Homo sapiens: one gene and its partner. The protein of the gene in region 1 interacts with the protein of each later gene in a biochemical or structural test. Each region holds a gene or a part of one and is shown on either strand. Other genes may lie near its edges.

Evidence for each region. The genes of interacting proteins can lie anywhere in the genome.
Region 2: the proteins of FGFR2 (region 1) and FGF4 interact in a biophysical measurement, tested with the Homo sapiens proteins (one study listed by IntAct).

What each region holds. Positions count from the first base shown.
Region 1 is NC_000010.11:121,588,445-121,591,944, reverse strand, and holds part of FGFR2 (fibroblast growth factor receptor 2 isoform 1 precursor), read left to right. Parts: intron 1-3,500. UniProt on the Homo sapiens protein: Tyrosine-protein kinase that acts as a cell-surface receptor for fibroblast growth factors and plays an essential role in the regulation of cell proliferation, differentiation, migration and apoptosis, and in the regulation of embryonic development.
Region 2 is NC_000011.10:69,772,542-69,776,542, reverse strand, and holds the start of FGF4 (fibroblast growth factor 4 precursor), read left to right. Parts: upstream 1-1,201; 5' UTR 1,202-1,458; coding exon 1,459-1,798; intron 1,799-2,415; coding exon 2,416-2,519; intron 2,520-3,057; coding exon 3,058-3,234; 3' UTR 3,235-4,001. UniProt on the Homo sapiens protein: Plays an important role in the regulation of embryonic development, cell proliferation, and cell differentiation. Required for normal limb and cardiac valve development during embryogenesis.

The sequences.
Region 1 (3,500 bases):
GGGACAGGTGAGGCAGAGGGAAGAAATCGTGGAAAGGGACGAAGTTCCCCGAGTGAGTCTTTGTGTAAGAATTTACATCCAACAATGTGGGTATTGTTGGAAGCAGGCCTGCTCAACCTGGGATCTGTGGATGCACTTATGGATCAGGAAGGAGGTCGATGAAGTTCTGGAAATTTTAGGTAATATTTTGTTAATGTCCTTTTGTGCATTTTTATGGGTTTATAGTTTCCATGAGCTATGAGTTCATTTGCATCCAGAATTATGAGATGGAAAAGAAAAGATGTCTTAGAGGAAGGTGCAAAACCTGGCAAAGAAGAGGCTTTGGAAAAGTATACAAGTCCCAGGCCTCAGTTTCCCTTTCTGTCGTCTGAGGGCTTAAGAAGATGATCTTTAGGGTCTCTTCATTAATAGTCATTGAATATTAATGTCCTCAGAAGTCTTCTGACTCTTCCACCAAAAGGTTGTTAGGAGATTTCCATTTGACCTGGACATAAAGAGCAATTAGCACAGGGGCTGGCATCCAGTAAGCACCGGGTGCATGGCCTTGTCGCCGTTGTCGCCAGGGAGCTGGGAACATGGGTCTTCCCAGTCCCGTGGGCTGGCTGTGCCAGGTGCCACAATGTCAAAAAACATCTAGGCTTTTGGAGACAGTTGAGAAGAAAGTTGTTTTTGGATGGAGGAGGCCCTTGGTGTTTCCAGGAAGCTGTGTTTGCTTTCTGTAGGGTCCCCACTTCCCCTCATCTGTTAGTCTAATACTGGCCACTGATTTGAGCCCTAAGACCAGTTCTTCTGTTGCAGGAGTTCGCTTTGGTGTCAGAGGTGATTAGGAAGGTCATTGAATTATAGATGAGAAAGGAGTTTTTAACAGCTGAAAATGGGCTCAGGTTTAGGCTCTGTGCTGGTGAATTGGAAGAGAGAGAGAGAGAGAGAGAGTGTGCGTGTGTGTGTGTGTGTGCGCGAGTGCGCGTGCGTGCGTGCGTGCCTGTGCCCCTGTCCATCAGTTCTCCATGATTAGAACTACTATAGCTTTGGTTAGCAGTAAGTTCCACCTTGACCTTCTGTGCACCAAGGTCTTATCTTGTAAGACTTTTTGGTTTGCTAATTTATTTGGAAGCTCAGTTTAGATAATGTCTATTGGATAGGAGAAAAATGTGACTGAGAAGTTCCAGGAAGAAGCCTGGGCCCTAACACTAGAGGGTCCTTTTCTTTTGGCCCCTCAGGGAAAGGTTATGTTTAGTCATCTTGGCTTTGTGCAATATCGTATCATATCATATGTCATATCATATATCATATATATCATTTGTCTTCTGGACACGTTCTGAAATAGTAGCAGTGGGGTTGGGCCCACTCAATTGACTTAAGAAAATAATCTCTAGAAGATTTTAGTTTTTAATATTTCAGATTAAATATGAGTTTTCCAGTTGGTCATTCATTGTTAATTTCCTTTTGGTCATTCATTGTTATAGGGCACCAGCAGAGGAGTGAAAACATGGTTATTGACTCGAAGGGGGGCAGTCCTCAATGCCAAGTACTATTCTGTTGATTAACATTATAAATATTTGAAGTCTAGTCAAGCTTGATTACCCTGAGAGGGGGCAACTCTTACTTTCAAGTTCTTCCTGACATTGTCACCTACTCTGGTTAATTAAGTCATTGTTGACATTAATGGCATCTTTGTTTACACCAACCCAGTAGGAGCTAAAATGAAAGGGCTTTTCAACCCTACACCCTTAATTACTTTCCCACCCTCCACAGAGTGTGACTCTGAAAAGTAACAACCTGAAAAAAAATGTAGTTTGTGTAGCAATTTTTTGTCAATCTTCTGAGAGGTGATGCTCTCCTGGACCAACGTGAGTTGGTCCAGAGTTCAGTAGCAGAAACGTCGAGGACAGGATCTACACAGAGACCTCCCTAAGTCAGATTTTTCCAGTATGGTTTAAGTCCTTTGTTAGAAGTATTGTAAATGCCATAATATTAACCATACGCATTTAATTGCAAGTTAAAAGAAAGGAAGAAAGAATATATCCGCATACCAAGAGTGAATGATTTAAAATAATCTTCTGTTTCGTATTATCTGCATCTTTGTTTTTCAATATGAGTGTTAATATTTAAGAGTTGACTGTAACTTGATAGTTAGCTTTGGAACAAGGACTTATTCTTGGTCAATTAAACCAAATACAGGCTTACGCAGTTAAATACACAATGAAGTACACATTCTTTATTAGTATATAAAGTGTTTCACAATTCATAGACCAAGAGCCATGTTTAATATTACTTATAGAGCAGAAATCTGGCAAGCCCAGAGAACTGGTACTTGTATCATTTTATACTGGCTCTCTCTGATTCAAATTTGGGGTATATGTGTGTGTTTCTGTTTTGTCTGTTTATTTCAACCAGTTAAAAGACAGAGCACTTACTATGCCAATGGCCCCGCATCAAGCCATAAGTAAAGACTTTATTCCTTTCAAGTCTTTCTGACCCAGTTGAGGGTGAGAATTCACAAAACCACAGCAATCCAATATGAGATGTTTTTAATATCAGACTTAACAAATAATTACATGGCTATGAAATAACTGGGGTCGTGTTTAAACTGGAAGTGTTTTGTTTAATGTTCGTAGTTTCAATAAAATGTATCCACTAGTCTTCCAGTTTGCAGACTGTTGTTTAGGTGTTTGTTTAGCCAGGGTAATTGTTAAAAACTCCCTCTAATCTAGCTTACCCTTACATTTCCATGGAAGCGAATTTTAGTCATTAAAGGAAAACATGGGAAATTGATTTTTGGGTGCCTGGCTGTTAAGCTAGGTAGGAAATATAGCTGGTGTGCTACTCTCCACTGTACTGGTCCGATTCTCGCCAGGGGGACATCTCTGTAGGCAGTTCAGAAATTATTTTTTGGAAGTTTTTTAGGCTATTCCACAGATAATTCTGATCCAGTAGGTTTTATGCAACTGTGCAAAATGCTTATGGTCTCTATTTTTTTTTCCTTGAGAGATGATTTTAGCCTTTGGTTTTTTGTTTGTTTTTGTTTTTTGAGACAGAGTCTTGATCTGCCACCCAGGCTGGAGTACAATGGTGCAATTGTACCCTCACTGCATTGTCAAACGTGGCTCACTGTACCCTCGGACTCCTGGGCTGAAGGGGTCCTCCAACCTCCTGAGTAGCTGGGACTACAGGCCTGGATAATTTTTAAAAATATTTCGTAGATATGGGGTTTCGCCATGTTGCTCAGGCTGGTCTCCAACTCCTGGCAGCCTTGGCCTCCCAAAGTGCTGGGATTACAAGTGTGAGCCACCACACCTGTCCTAGCCTTAAGTTTTGCATTTTTTTCCATCTTTTTGCTGTATCCCATATGATTTAGAGATTTTTGCTGTATCCCATGAGATTTAGAGATGGCTCTACTTTTTTTAGCTTTCCTAGCATTGAAATGCTTGGTGTTGCTAATCATACCCCATCTTTACCACACCATCTTCCTCCCTGACTTGCCTTCTTAGTGTAGTTTG
Region 2 (4,001 bases), on another chromosome or scaffold:
AGCCCTCAAGCCTCCCAGGTCCCCTCCAGGGGCACGAATAAGCCCCAGCAGGGTTCTGAAGGGGTCCCAGGAATCTCCCTGTGGGGATGCGGTGGAGGTGGAGGAGGCTGCGGTGGCCTGGGGACATCTCTGGTCACAGGTGCTGGTGGTATGAGAGATGGGGTAGGCACCAAGCCCCCTGCAGCTGTGGCTAGGCGGGCCTGCAGGAAGGGCCAGGCAGGCTCCTCAGGGACCACAAAGAACAGGGGTTTTCACACCTAGGTGGGCCTGCATCTAGCTAGGACAGTCCCCATCAGGCCATAATGGGCACAGTGGGAGGTAGAACCATGAGTGAGAGAGGGGAGGCTTCCAGAGGCCTGGCCTGGGTCCCTGCTAGATTGAGGGCTCTGGCTATGGTACATGGATATTTCTGCTGTGGAATCAAAGGAGCAGGGGATGCTGAATATCCCCTCTGGCCCTATGCCCTGCTACCTGTCCTTTCACGGAAGGGTGTGTGTGTAGGGGGTGCAGGACCAGGCCTCCCTGGGTGCATCTCTGCCACCTTGCCCTTTGGCTCAGGTGGACCTCCACCAGGTATTCAGAACTCCAGCCCAGAAACGCGCCAAGCCTGTGGGGCCAAGACCTAGGGGGTGGGGGTGGCCTCCCTCCCGCCTGTAGCCAAAGGGTCCTCCCTTGCCCAGCCAGGCCCCGGTGTCGCTTACTGCTCTTATCCACCCCTCCTTCCCAGGCCGGTCCTCAAGGCCCCAGCAAAGGAACCAAGTTCCCGTGAGCCTCCGAAAGGCGAAGGGCAGGCAGCAGCCGCTGGCTTCTGCGCCCACTAGGAGCTTCGGATGCCCGAGTTAGGGCTGCGCCAAGGCGGCCGGAGCAGAGAGGGAGACGGGGACGGGGACAGGCAGGGACAAAGTGCAAGAGGCAAAACTGGCTGAAAAGCAGAAGTGTAGGAGCCGCCAAGGGGCGGGACGAACAGGTCCGTGGGCCGGGCGGAGCCAAGGGTGGGGGCCGGGGTCCCTCCAGGTGGCACTCGCGGCGCTAGTCCCCAGCCTCCTCCCTTCCCCCGGCCCTGATTGGCAGGCGGCCTGCGACCAGCCGCGAACGCCACAGCGCCCCGGGCGCCCAGGAGAACGCGAACGGCCCCCCGCGGGAGCGGGCGAGTAGGAGGGGGCGCCGGGCTATATATATAGCGGCTCGGCCTCGGGCGGGCCTGGCGCTCAGGGAGGCGCGCACTGCTCCTCAGAGTCCCAGCTCCAGCCGCGCGCTTTCCGCCCGGCTCGCCGCTCCATGCAGCCGGGGTAGAGCCCGGCGCCCGGGGGCCCCGTCGCTTGCCTCCCGCACCTCCTCGGTTGCGCACTCCTGCCCGAGGTCGGCCGTGCGCTCCCGCGGGACGCCACAGGCGCAGCTCTGCCCCCCAGCTTCCCGGGCGCACTGACCGCCTGACCGACGCACGGCCCTCGGGCCGGGATGTCGGGGCCCGGGACGGCCGCGGTAGCGCTGCTCCCGGCGGTCCTGCTGGCCTTGCTGGCGCCCTGGGCGGGCCGAGGGGGCGCCGCCGCACCCACTGCACCCAACGGCACGCTGGAGGCCGAGCTGGAGCGCCGCTGGGAGAGCCTGGTGGCGCTCTCGTTGGCGCGCCTGCCGGTGGCAGCGCAGCCCAAGGAGGCGGCCGTCCAGAGCGGCGCCGGCGACTACCTGCTGGGCATCAAGCGGCTGCGGCGGCTCTACTGCAACGTGGGCATCGGCTTCCACCTCCAGGCGCTCCCCGACGGCCGCATCGGCGGCGCGCACGCGGACACCCGCGACAGTGAGTGGCGCGGCCAGGCGCGAAGGGGCGGGGGCGGGGGGCAACGGCCGCCGGGCCAACCCGCTCAGTCACACTCTGAGACCCTCGGCGGGCACCTGCTCGGGGGCCCCGGGAACCGGGGCGGACTCGGGCTCCGGTCCCTTCTGACGCGGGGCTGGGGACGCAGACACTCTTGGCTCCGGCAGCCCAGCGCAACCCCTGAGGTCGGGCGCCGCCTCCCGCCTTCAGAAACTCGGGCTCCGAGCGCCGAATTCCAGCGCCTTCGCCCGTGGGCACAGGGCGCGCGGTGCAGCCACAGGGGGCCCGAGACACGCGCCCCGGCCTGGCCCAGGCTGGGGAACCGCTGGGGTCGGGCTCGCGTCTGAAGGTCCGGGACTGGGTGCGGCCGCCGGGGGTCCCCTACACAGGCAAGCTAATCTGAGCTAGCGCAGGCTTGGGCTCCGGAGGCCCTAGAGGGCAGCTTGGGCTCTGGAGGCCCTTGGGGGCGGCTGCGCCGGGAACCCTGGCCCTTTATCCCCAACCCCACCCCAGAAATAGGGTCCCCGGAGGCGAACAAGCCGAGGGGCGGAGTGGGCCAGGGATCACCTGCCCCGCAATGACCTGCGCCCCGCCCCCAGGCCTGCTGGAGCTCTCGCCCGTGGAGCGGGGCGTGGTGAGCATCTTCGGCGTGGCCAGCCGGTTCTTCGTGGCCATGAGCAGCAAGGGCAAGCTCTATGGCTCGGTGAGTACCGCAGGGGTCTGGCTAGGCACCTAGTTGGGAACAGCGGACATGGCTAGCAGGCTCGTGGCTTCTCCAGCCCCACCTGTGCCTGGGTCTTGGAGGGGTGGCAGGGTCACCAGGTCACGGGACCGGCAGGCCTCCCCAGACAAAGGAAGCAGCCCCAAGGCAGGAACAATGAGGTTCCTGCCATCCCTGAGTGGGCCCCTCCCAGACCGAGGAAAGGGCGCTATTGAGAGCCCTTCCCTTCTCTAGTCCAGAGGGGTAGGTCTCAGTGTTGGAACTGCGGGCTTGAGGCTGGACACGGAGGGAATGAATTCTCTGGCTGCTAGGTGCAGGGCAGGTGGTGAGAGCACCAGCTGTTGTGGGCTGGCCATGTCCCCTTCTCACCCTGTGTGGGTCTTGACACCTTAACTGCTCAGCAGAGACATCTCAGCCCAGGGTGGGGGGTGGGACAGAAGGGGGTTCTGACCCCTGGCTTCAGGCTGGGTACCTTGCCCAAGAGGTGCCCCAGCCCTGACACTGCCCTGCTTTGCTGCAGCCCTTCTTCACCGATGAGTGCACGTTCAAGGAGATTCTCCTTCCCAACAACTACAACGCCTACGAGTCCTACAAGTACCCCGGCATGTTCATCGCCCTGAGCAAGAATGGGAAGACCAAGAAGGGGAACCGAGTGTCGCCCACCATGAAGGTCACCCACTTCCTCCCCAGGCTGTGACCCTCCAGAGGACCCTTGCCTCAGCCTCGGGAAGCCCCTGGGAGGGCAGTGCCGAGGGTCACCTTGGTGCACTTTCTTCGGATGAAGAGTTTAATGCAAGAGTAGGTGTAAGATATTTAAATTAATTATTTAAATGTGTATATATTGCCACCAAATTATTTATAGTTCTGCGGGTGTGTTTTTTAATTTTCTGGGGGGAAAAAAAGACAAAACAAAAAACCAACTCTGACTTTTCTGGTGCAACAGTGGAGAATCTTACCATTGGATTTCTTTAACTTGTCAAAAGTTGTCACGAGTGTGCTGCTATTCTGTGTTTTAAAAAAAGGTGACATTGGATTCCGATGTCATCCCCTGTAGTATGGCGTGGAGCATCTCTGTCTGGAAAGGCCCGCCTGAGGCTTGGGCAGCCAGTTCAGGGAGCTCCCAGGCTTGGCTCTCGGCTAGCATCCTCAGAGGCCCACTCCCTTTGTGCCCTGTTGCTATTAATCGGGACATATCGGTTTACTTCGGGTACAGAAAGTGCGGTGTTGAAGTCCTCGCTGCCACTCTGTTTTTAGATCTGCCAAGACTGACCTTTGAACTTTCCTGTAGTCAATCTTCCTCGATCTACCAGATGGGAGAGACCCTTGGACAACTTTATAAACTCCTGTTTGCCTTTTTTGGATCAGCGACAGCCCCCATCGCTGTGACTATTGGGGAAAAGACGAAGCTCTTTCATAAATTCCATGGAGAGGAATCAATATCCCACTGGAAGGCTAGAAATGGAC